Homo sapiens: one gene and its partners. The protein of the gene in region 1 purifies or fractionates together with the protein of each later gene. This does not show direct contact. Each region holds a gene or a part of one and is shown on either strand. Other genes may lie near its edges.

Region 1 (3,753 bases):
GTTTTAAGGAAGGCAGAATTAGAGATAGACAAGTTATAGGAACCCAGGCAAGCCATTATAATGCCAAACTAAGGCAATGGCAGGAGGGATAGAAAGAACTGGACCAGTTTTAAATCCATTATGGGACAGGAAAGGCATGTTGCAGTCCCTTCAGCCAAGTTGCAAGTTTTGAATGAGTTATCCAAACATTATTAAATGCATCTTCAGTGATGACTACCAAGCTTTTTTCCAGGAACCAACCCTCTTTTGTAAAAATGTTAGGTTAGCCTGTTCGTTCTGGTTTCTTGGGCAGTGACTGGGATGTTCAAACTATTAATTGGGATAGAACACCGAAGCTGGTTAAAAACAATATTTCTTATAGAAATTGATCTTGAACATGGATCAAGGTTCACTGCTAGCAGGAGAATCGGAGAGTGTGTGGTAATGAAAAGTTATAGTTGAGAAAACAAGCGTTTACATCAGCAACTAATTAAGAAAAAAGCAGCTCATAAGTGGATGAATGCAGTTCATAAACACATTATATCAGTTATTACACAGGAAATCTAAGGCAGAATACTGTGAAATGCAAGGTGTATAGCTTATCAACAAGAATGTAGCAAATACACCATTCAACTAAGAAAGAAATGATAAGGCTGCATCTGGGGCTGTTGACTGGAAGCACAAAGTTTCCTTTCCTTGTAGTAGTTCCTAAAGATTCCAGTTTACATGGAAAGACAGAAAGCTGTCACACCCATGGCAGGAGCGCAGAACCCAAGCGACAAATTCTAATTTTGAACAGGCAGGTGCCAGTGCATTTCTCAAACTGCAAACTAAAATGCAGAAACACGATTTTCCTGTTTCTTAGTTTTGGACCGTTTTCCCCCCTCTAGCACGCCAGAGCAGGTTTTAATTGTTGTCAGGTCAGATGGTGAGTTAACTTTGAGTGTTGAGTTGAGGGGCCAGTGGGATGTGGGTCCAGTTGAAAGGTGGATATATGTAGATCCAGACTCGAGTGATATAGGCTGCAAATAAATTGCTAGTGAATTTATGAATTATTAGAAAAGAAAGGACATTCATTATGATTTAATCGCAGTTGAATGTAGGCAGCACAGAGGGCTTATACTGTGTCTTTTTTTTTTTTTTTTTTTAAATATACGGTGTCTATTTTGCTCACCACTCTATGCCCGGTGCCTGGAAGTGCGACTGGCACATAGTAGGTGTTGCATAGTTTCAGAATGAACTTTTTAGGAATCAAAATTCTACAAACATTGCACACAGATTTAACGTTCCCTTATTTTCCAGGTGAGGTCAGGGCGCCCTTTGGTTTCGCGCTTCTGTCCCTTTAAGAAAGTGGAGGAGAAAGAAAGCGCTGCTGGGAAAAAGGGCGGGGCCGCGAGGGGCCGCCGTCCGTCCCGCCCCCTGCCGGGCCGCGGCGCTCTGCTAGAGCGTGGCTCAGTTTTGGTAGCGGGACCCCGGAAATGTAAAGCATGAGCGGGAACAGTCGCCAGGGCGAGTGACAGGCGAGCCCTATGCTTTACTTCCGAGGGCGGTGTCAGCAAAGCTAGGTAAGGAGACAGGGAGGACGGTGCCTGCCCCTTTAAGATCGACTCCACCCCGCCTCTGGAGGAAAATGACGCCGCCGTCTACCCGTTGTGGAACGTAACTCTTTTCATCCCATCAGCTCTCCTTCTCATTAAGAGAAATACCAAGTGGTCACCACAGTCACATACTTCATAACCCATGCCTCATCGGTGCTGGGACGGGAGAGGGAAGCGCCGATCTAAATGACATGGGGTCCAAATCCCAAATAATCTCTATTTGCTCTGCGTTACCTTTAAACTTAGGCTGCGTTGTGTGATTCAAGTGACAGCCTAGTACTGCTTAACAATTAGTCTAGTGGGATACCAGGCCCTGAGAGACCCCTACGATCCCAGGACACTGATGTGGGGTAACTAACACCCACTGGAAGTCTACGCTGAGTTCACAGGCTATGTATGACCTGACATGCATTTTGACCTGCCCTGTGTTTTGATATTTGAATGAGTTGCTGATGTTTACAAGCCGAAGCTGGCCGGGCGTGGTGGCTCGCGCCTGTAATCCCAGCACTTTGGGAGGTCGAGGCAGGAGGATCGCTTCAGGTCAGGAGTTCCAGACCAGTCTGGCCAACATGGCGAAACCTCGTCTCTACTAAAAAAAAAAAAAAAAAAAAAAATACAAAAATTAGCCGGGCGTGGTGGCACGCCCCTGTAATCCCAGGACTCGGGAGGCTGAGGTAGGAGAATCGCTTGAACCTGGGAGTCGGAGGTTGCAGTGAGCCGAGATCACGCCACTGCACTCCAGCCTGGGCAACAGAGACTCTGTCTCAAAAAAAAAAAAAAAAAAAAAAAAAAAGGTGGAAGCTAATGTGTCAATATCTAGATTTTTTTGATGATTTTGAGAAATCGGAGGATCTGGCAGCATGTCCTGCCTAGCCTTTTTGAACTGTTTGAAAACAGTCTCCAGCTTGCCACAGCCCCTCTGTTATTTTACAGCCAGCCTGCATCACTCATTTATGATGTCCAGCCCCTTGTGGGGATTTGGATTTTTGACCCCTAAATACTTTAGTGGATTTAAGACCATTTAAAACATTTATGCAGAAGAGATCCGAGGTCCCCAAACAACTGGGTGTATAAGTTGTGTTTAAGTTGTTCCTCATTCTCATTTATTCTAATCCGGGTGTTTTTCTATATATATATATTTTTAAACAAATCTTAGTGATCAATTGCACAGGTGTTTTTCTGTTGGAGCAAATCTTTTCAGTTTAGGCTTGGTAAAATCGAACCATCAGATACTTTTACAGAAAGAGATTTAGGAGTTGATGTTCTTTTATTACAATTAAATGCATACAGTATTTTTAAAGGAAAAAACCTGAATCTTGATTGCATTGTTTTATGATACAACAATCTTTAATGAAATAGAGTAGTCAATATAATTTGTATTAATATATCTCTGCCCACAGACAATTATAAATTCATTAACCCCCAGAACTCTTGGCTAGACTTCATAAAGGCAAAAACTGTGTTTGCCCTGTTAACTGCTTTATCCCACCACTAGAATATAAGCTTCCTGAAGACAGAAGACTTCTGTTATTTTGTTCACAGTTACCAAGCATGCCTACTTTGTTAAATTTATGAAAGAACTTTAAAGGTACAGTTGGCCCACAATATAACAATATAGCAATATAAAATTACAACAATAAAAATAACACAAAAATAGTGTAACAACTACTTATATAGCATTTACGTTGTATTAAGTATTATGAGTCATCCAGAGATGATTTAAAGTAAAGTATACCACAGCATATGCCTAGTTTATATACAAATATGATGCCATTTTATATAAGGGACTTGAGTATCCTCTGATTGTGGTATCCTGGAAGCAGGGGATACCGGAACCAATCACTTGAGGATACTGAAGGATGACTGTATGGCTGATTTCCTGTAAGAGGCATTTTCTTGAGGATTCTTTCAAAATCAAATGCTTGTATATTTGTTGTGTTAAATTACTAAAAGGATTCTCTTGTGAAAAGTATCATTTAAAAAGATTGGATTTTCCCAATTGATGCACCAAAGCTTTCATCTGAAATGAACTTGCACATGTGAATCATCAGATACAGTAATATACACTGTAATATTTTATTTCTTTTTTTTTTTTATGAGACGGAGTTTTGCTCTTGTTGCCCAGGCTGGAATGCAATGGTGCGATCTCGGCACACTGCAACCTCCGCCTCCCGGG
Region 2 (3,753 bases), on another chromosome or scaffold:
ACAAATATTTCAAAAGCTTAAATTTATTGTCATGTGCAGTTTTGTTGTGTTTTACATGGGATTTTAAGTTCTAAAGTTAGGTTGTTAACTAACACTGGCTGGGGGTGTTAGACCCTAACACTGGTCTAGGGTTTTAGACCAAAATCATGTACAATAAGATTAATTCTTATAAGTCCCTTTGGAAGTCAAATTTTAGAGACCAACATACAGCTTTTAGGAGGACTGACACAATTGGCTTTTTTTCTCCATCTTTGGAATATAATGTTGTTTTTTAAGTTGAGCACCAGATGAAATACTTTGTTTGCGTTTAAGGGCTGTGTTGTGTGAATAATTAAACACTAGGGAAATGGTAATAATAATACCAGATTCTTCTGTAACACTTATAAAACTATCTGCCAGGTATTGTTCTAAGTGTTTTGCATATATTCATTTAATCTCCCCTAAACCCATGAGACAGAAACTATTATTTTTATCTCCATTTTAGAAGTAAGAAAACTGAAACACAGAAATTTTAAGTAATTTGTCCGTGGCCACACAGCTGGTGAGCTCTGTGCAGCTAACTACTACACTAGCCTGCTTGCTCATGGTCCTCATTTTAGAGAGCTGTGCTTACACAGTGAGAGATGCACAAACAGGGACTAACTGAAAGAATCGGAGAGTTGTCTCAAGTTTGTTCTAAGGCATATACTCATAAAATGGGATGATGGATATCATCTGTATCATTTAAATTATTTCTTTTTTAAACTTAAATCATTAAATAAGTTAAATACATAGATTATGTGGTTCCACTGTAATTAATATGCCCCTTGCAATTTTGTTCATTTATTCATCTAAATCGTGTGTGTGTGTGTGTGTGTGTGTGTGTGTGTGTGAGAGAGAGAGAGAGAGAGAGAGAGAGAGAGAATGAGTGAATGACAAGCACCTGCTGGCCTTGCTGATCTGAAGCTACATCTAAATCATTTTTTCCCTTTGGGCAGAGCTAAACTTAACCCAAGCCCCTTCCTATGTTATCACAATCCCTAACCAGATTTTGCTGAAATTTTAAAAAGTACTTTGCTAGTGACAATTTAACTATCCTCATACAGCAGACTGAGTTTTCTTGGCTGATGTGGATTATAATGAGGCACAACATTGTGAATTATTCACTAATTATTAACCCTCAAAGGTAGCACAATTTAATCCAGATGTTTATGGAATGCTTATTGTTTTTGATGAATAGAATAACCCTTTACCTTAAGTATGAAGATAGTTTGAAAGTGACAGCCAGATGGAATAGGACTATGATAATAGATATGTCTGCCAAACTATTATTCTATCAGTTTAATTAAAATAATCATTGGAAAGTCTGATTTTCTGAATCAATTTCTTAGAAAATAAAATTTAGGCCAGGCGCGGTGTCTCATGCCTGTAATCCCAGTACTTGGGGAGGCTGAGGCGGGTGGATCACCTGAAGTCAGCAGTTCAAGACCAGCCTGGGCAACATGGCAAAACCCCGTCTCTACTAATAATACAAAAATTAGCCAGGTGTGGTGGCGTGTGCCTGTAATCCCAACTACTCGGGATGCTGAGGCAGGAGAATCACTTGAACCCAGGAGGCGGAGGTTGCAGTGAGCTGAGATTGCACCACTGCACTCCAGCCTGGACAACAGAGAGAGACTCTGTCTCAAAATAAAAAAAAAAAAAAGAAAAGAAAATGTAAAAATAAATTCAGGAAATATAAACAAGTATGTTGTGATAACAGGTACTCAAATGCTAAGAACCAAGAACAATCTGAATATTTACAAATCTGGATAATCTTTCCTTCAGCCAAGAGAAAGTGAGAATAAAGATTTATTTATTTCATTTTTATTTTGTTTTGTTTTATTTTATTTTAATTTTATTTTTTTGAGACAGAGTCTTACTCTGTTGCCCAGGCTGGAGTGCAGTGGCGTGATCTTGGCTCACTGCAACCCCCGCCTCCCGGGTTCAAGCAATTCTCCTGCCTCGGCCTCCCAAGTAGCTGGGACTATAGGCGCGTGCCATCACATCTGGCTAATTTTTTATTTTTAGTAGAGATGGGGTTTCACCGTGTTGGCCAGGCTGTTCTCAAACTCCTGACCTCAGGTGAGCCACCATGCCTAGCCTAAAGATTTATTTTTGTAGGAATCTGGCTGATAAACTGATAACCTCACTAGCAATGTCAGTCCCATCTAGTCATTAGCAATGTCAGTCACATCTAGTTAAGTGTTATGTCTCTAATAAAGGAAATAGAAAGATCCAGTACAGGTCCAATAAAATTAGAGATTTAGATAGGGCCAGAGATAGTAAGGTGTATCATATTTGGTTTCTCTAGTAGATTTTATTGATTAGGAAACAGGAACATAAAGTTTATATGACTTGCCCTAGATCATGTAGCTTCTACTTAGAGACAAAGGAAGGTCCAGAGCTAAAGCTTTCTAACTCCTGGCTCTGCTCTTCTGTTGTATTGCCTTCCCTTGGGTAAAGGAGTATTCTTACATATTTATATAAATAAGGACAGTAAAAAAAATCAATTTCCTTTGCTTGAGGTTCTTTATATAATCATTGTGTGCTATATGTTTGTCACTAGATAATTTGAGATTTTTCTCCTTTGTAGGTAAGACAGAATGTCAAAATACTTAAATTTTTCTATGTCGATATTTAGTTTTAGATAAAAGTTTTTATGGGACATTTTCTTCAAGTAAATTCAAATGAAGCTCAAGTAATTCCTTTGGCATTTTTTTCAGAATTGCTTCAGATTGCTGGAATTAGCCCACATGGTAATGCTTTAGGAGCATCAATGCAGCAACAGGTAAATCAACAAATACCTCAGGAAAAACGAGGAGGTGAAGTATTGGATTCTTCTCATGATGACATAAAACTTGAAAAAAGTAATATTTTGCTGCTTGGACCAACTGGGTCAGGTAAATAACTTGCTGAGAAAATTTACTACTCATTTTAAAAATCAGAATATAAATGATTCTATAACCTGTATCTTGCGATTGAAGTATTACGGCTCTTGAGAAGAAAATCTAAGGCCAGTCATCTAGATACACTATCAGTATTCCTGCATAGAATACAAACTGGATTTGAGGCATTGGTGTTGCCCTTCAGGCCAATCCCTAACATCTTCACAGGAATAATAAAATAAAAAACAGCTATATCTAAATAATAATAGATCGGATGTAGTGGCTCACACCTGTAATCCCAGCATTTTGGGAGACAAAGGTGGGAGGATCACTTGAGGCCAAGAGTTTGAGACCAGCCTAGGCAACAGAGCAAGACTCTATCTCTATAAAAAATAAAGTATTAGTTGGGCGTGGTAGCACATGCCTGTAGTCCTGAGGCTGAGGCAGGAGGATCACTTAAGCCCAGGAGATTGAGGCTGGAGTGAGCCATGATCACAGGCTGCACTCCAGCCTGGGTGACAGAGCAAGAACCTGTCTCTAAAAAAAATAATAGCAGAGGAAGGATGTAGCAATTGACAACTTTTTATTATATACTACTAAAATTTATTTTGCATTTTTATTGAAAAATTGTGTGCCAATATATTTTCAGTAAACTTTTAGTGACTGTTTCTATTTGTAGGTAAAACTCTGCTGGCACAAACCCTAGCTAAATGCCTTGATGTCCCTTTTGCTATCTGTGACTGTACAACTTTGACTCAGGCTGGATATGTAGGCGAAGATATTGAATCTGTGATTGCAAAACTACTCCAAGATGCCAATTATAATGTGGAAAAAGCACAACAAGGTA
Region 3 (3,753 bases), on another chromosome or scaffold:
TTTTTTTTTGAGACAGGGTGTCTTGATCTGTCACCCAGGCTGGAATGCAGTGGCACGATCTTGGCTTACTGCAACCTCCACCTTCTGGGTTCAAGCAATCCTCCCGTCTCAGCCTCCCAAGTAGCTGGGACTACAGGTGCAGTACCATGCCCAGCTAATTTTTTTACTTTTAGTAATGACGGGTCTCACTGTATTGCCTAGGCTTCTCAAACTTCTGGACTCAAGCAATATGCCTGCCTCCGCCTCCCAAAGTCCTGGGATTACAGGCATGAGCTACCGAGCTCAGTTTTGAAAGGTAGAAGTGTATGCTACAAGGGATGTAGGACTTGAGAGTCAAGGCCTATGGTCTTGTCCTGGCTCTACCAGTAAGTGTGACCTTCGATGTTTTTTTCTCAAGTAAGGCTGGTAATAATTACCACAGTTGTGAGAATTGAGAATTTGGAAATGCAGTGAAAGAGACTATACTCAAGTCTTGTTCTGGACTAACAGTGATCTTAAAATCTCTCATTTCAAAGAAATAAAGTATTTTGATGATTCTCTTGCATGGTGTATTAATAAACTTGGTATAATGGCAGAAACTGTAACCTACAACAGGTTTACGTTTAACTCTTTTTGTAGGTGTTTGGAGAAGAGGGATTGACCCTGAATCTTGAAGACGTTCAGCCTCATGACTTAGGAAAAGTTGGAGAGGTCATTGTGACCAAAGACGATGCCATGCTCTTAAAAGGAAAAGGTGACAAGGCTCAAATTGAAAAACGTATTCAAGAAATCATTGAGCAGTTAGATGTCACAACTAGTGAATATGAAAAGGAAAAACTGAATGAACGGCTTGCAAAACTTTCAGATGGAGTGGCTGTGCTGAAGGTAACATTCATTATTATGAATAAGTTTCTTGGGTTCTGAGTCCAAGAATGATTTTGCTTCTGTAGTATTCCCCAGTAGTACCATAGAACTAAACGAATACTTGAGGAATTAACTTCATAGTGGAATTTTGTTTGTTTTGTTTTGAGCTCTTCGTCACCCAGGCTGGGATGCAGTGGTGCGATCTCGGCGCACTGCAACCTCCGCCTCTTGGGTTCAAGCGAATCTCCTGCCTTGGCCTCCCGAGTAGCTGGGATTACAGGCACTTGCCACCATGCCTGGCTAATTTTGTATTTTTAGTGGAGACAGGGCTTCACCATGTTGGTCAGGCTGGTCTCAAACTCCTGACCTCAAGTGATCCACTCACCTCAGCCTCCCAAAGTGCTAGGATTACAGGTGTGAGCCACCACGCCCACCTCAGGATTGCTTTTTAAGTAAACTGCTTTTAAATGACTTGGCAATTAGCATCTTGAATGAAGAGGCCATACTAACTGGAATTCTTTTCGTCTTTAGGTTGGTGGGACAAGTGATGTTGAAGTGAATGAAAAGAAAGACAGAGTTACAGATGCCCTTAATGCTACAAGAGCTGCTGTTGAAGAAGGCATTGTTTTGGGAGGGGGTTGTGCCCTCCTTCGATGCATTCCAGCCTTGGACTCATTGACTCCAGCTAATGAAGATCAAAAAATTGGTAAAAAGTTACCTTTTAAATGAGTTTGTGGCCTGATTTTAGTTTTTCTTAGAATAATAATGTTGCAGTCCCCTAAATGGAATAGCACATTCATTTCCTGAATAACAGAAGTAGAATAGTGCTAATGTCAGAGCTAAACATGCATCACATCTTTTTCAGAGGAAATGATTTGATCTGTAGTAGGATTGGGATTTCCCTACATCAATATCCTCACAACTTATAAATGTGTTACAATATTTACAAATGAAAGTATTAAAATTTTGCTGAAATTTCTCTGTAGGTATAGAAATTATTAAAAGAACACTCAAAATTCCAGCAATGACCATTGCTAAGAATGCAGGTGTTGAAGGATCTTTGATAGTTGAGAAAATTATGCAAAGTTCCTCAGAAGTTGGTTATGATGCTATGGCTGGAGATTTTGTGAATATGGTGGAAAAAGGAATCATTGACCCAACAAAGGTAAATGGTTGAACACTTTCTAAAAATTCTTTTGTTGTTCATTTTGTTAATGTATCCTCACATCCCAAATCTTTGATTTTGTCACCAGAAAAATAGTCTAATAGCAGTAGCAACAGCAATAGCTCTTGTGCCCATCAACAATTCTCATGTACATTTCCAGCACCTAGATATTTAATACTCCACTAAAAGGAAGCAGGATCCCTTGAGTAGCAGTTGAGTCCATGCCTGGAGGCAGGAAAAAATCAGGATGGATCTGGAACACCCTGTTCCTGCCTGGCAGTAAGAATACTTTCCAAGATACGCAGAACAGGGTTTTGTTTTGTTTTGAAGACAGAGTCGCTGTGTCGCCCAGGCTGGAGTGCAGGCAGTGACAACCTCCACCTCCTGGGTTCAAGCGATTCTCCTGCCTCAGGCTCCTGAGTAGCTGGGATTACAGGCATGCACCACCATGCCTGGCTAATTTTTGTATTTTTAGTAGAGACGGGGTCTCATCATGTTGGCCAGGCTGGTCTTGAACTCCTAACCTCAAGTCATCTACCTGCCTCAGCCTCCCAAAGTGCTGGATTACAGGTGTGAGCCACCATGCCCAGACAGAAATTTTCAATAAGTCTTGCTCATATTTTACTAAGGGAAAACTAATTAATTAAATTTTTTTCTAGGTTGTGAGAACTGCTTTATTGGATGCTGCTGGTGTGGCCTCTCTGTTAACTACAGCAGAAGTTGTAGTCACAGAAATTCCTAAAGAAGAGAAGGACCCTGGAATGGGTGCAATGGGTGGAATGGGAGGTGGTATGGGAGGTGGCATGTTCTAACTCCTAGACTAGTGCTTTACCTTTATTAATGAACTGTGACAGGAAGCCCAAGGCAGTGTTCCTCACCAATAACTTCAGAGAAGTCAGTTGGAGAAAATGAAGAAAAAGGCTGGCTGAAAATCACTATAACCATCAGTTACTGGTTTCAGTTGACAAAATATATAATGGTTTACTGCTGTCATTGTCCATGCCTACAGATAATTTATTTTGTATTTTTGAATAAAAAACATTTGTACATTCCTGATACTGGGTACAAGAGCCATGTACCAGTGTACTGCTTTCAACTTAAATCACTGAGGCATTTTTACTACTATTCTGTTAAAATCAGGATTTTAGTGCTTGCCACCACCAGATGAGAAGTTAAGCAGCCTTTCTGTGGAGAGTGAGAATAATTGTGTACAAAGTAGAGAAGTATCCAATTATGTGACAACCTTTGTGTAATAAAAATTTGTTTAAAGTTAATAATTGTGTTAGCATTTCCATGATTAGAAGATACTGAAAATTGAAAGCCAGTTGAAGGGCAGGCTGGCATGTGTGTAAAACATTATCCTATCTATGATATTTTCATGTTTCTCTTTGTTGCAGACTGAACTACATTATTCCATTGATAATGGGGAAAGACAGTTTCTATTTTCCCCGGTGCAAGGATGTAATCTCTCTTGGAGCTGTAAAATCTGGGAGGTTGGAGGGAACTCCAGCTCCTCAGCATGGCCTTTGGGCTGCTGCTGCAAGCAAGGCATTGAGGCAAATATTTTTGCTGTCCTTACCTTGGACAGAAGTAGAGGGGAGAAATAAAGTCCATCATCACATGAAAAGTCAGTCACTTGAAATCCTGTACCTAGAATACCTTTGGCTTTGGTAATTTCGTTGTGTTTGGGGTACAAAAAAAAGGATCTATTTGATAGCACAACGGGGTGACTATAGTCAATAATA

What was found.
Region 2: the proteins of ETFBKMT (region 1) and CLPX purify together in Homo sapiens (affinity purification with mass spectrometry; 2 studies listed by BioGRID and IntAct, with this or other methods). This does not show direct contact.
Region 3: the proteins of ETFBKMT (region 1) and HSPD1 purify together in Homo sapiens (affinity purification with mass spectrometry; 4 studies listed by BioGRID and IntAct, with this or other methods). This does not show direct contact.

What each region holds. Positions count from the first base shown.
Region 1 is NC_000012.12:31,657,819-31,661,571, forward strand, and holds the start of ETFBKMT (electron transfer flavoprotein beta subunit lysine methyltransferase), read left to right. Parts: upstream 1-1,869; 5' UTR 1,870-1,971; exon of another isoform or gene 1,972-3,165; intron 3,166-3,753. UniProt on the Homo sapiens protein: Protein-lysine methyltransferase that selectively trimethylates the flavoprotein ETFB in mitochondria. Thereby, may negatively regulate the function of ETFB in electron transfer from Acyl-CoA dehydrogenases to the main respiratory chain.
Region 2 is NC_000015.10:65,157,743-65,161,495, reverse strand, and holds part of CLPX (ATP-dependent clpX-like chaperone, mitochondrial precursor), read left to right. Parts: intron 1-2,744; coding exon 2,745-2,921; intron 2,922-3,585; coding exon 3,586-3,750; intron 3,751-3,753. UniProt on the Homo sapiens protein: ATP-dependent chaperone that functions as an unfoldase.
Region 3 is NC_000002.12:197,486,113-197,489,865, reverse strand, and holds the end of HSPD1 (60 kDa heat shock protein, mitochondrial), read left to right. Parts: intron 1-618; coding exon 619-864; intron 865-1,374; coding exon 1,375-1,549; intron 1,550-1,829; coding exon 1,830-2,008; intron 2,009-2,667; coding exon 2,668-2,820; 3' UTR 2,821-3,282; downstream 3,283-3,753. UniProt on the Homo sapiens protein: Chaperonin implicated in mitochondrial protein import and macromolecular assembly. Together with Hsp10, facilitates the correct folding of imported proteins.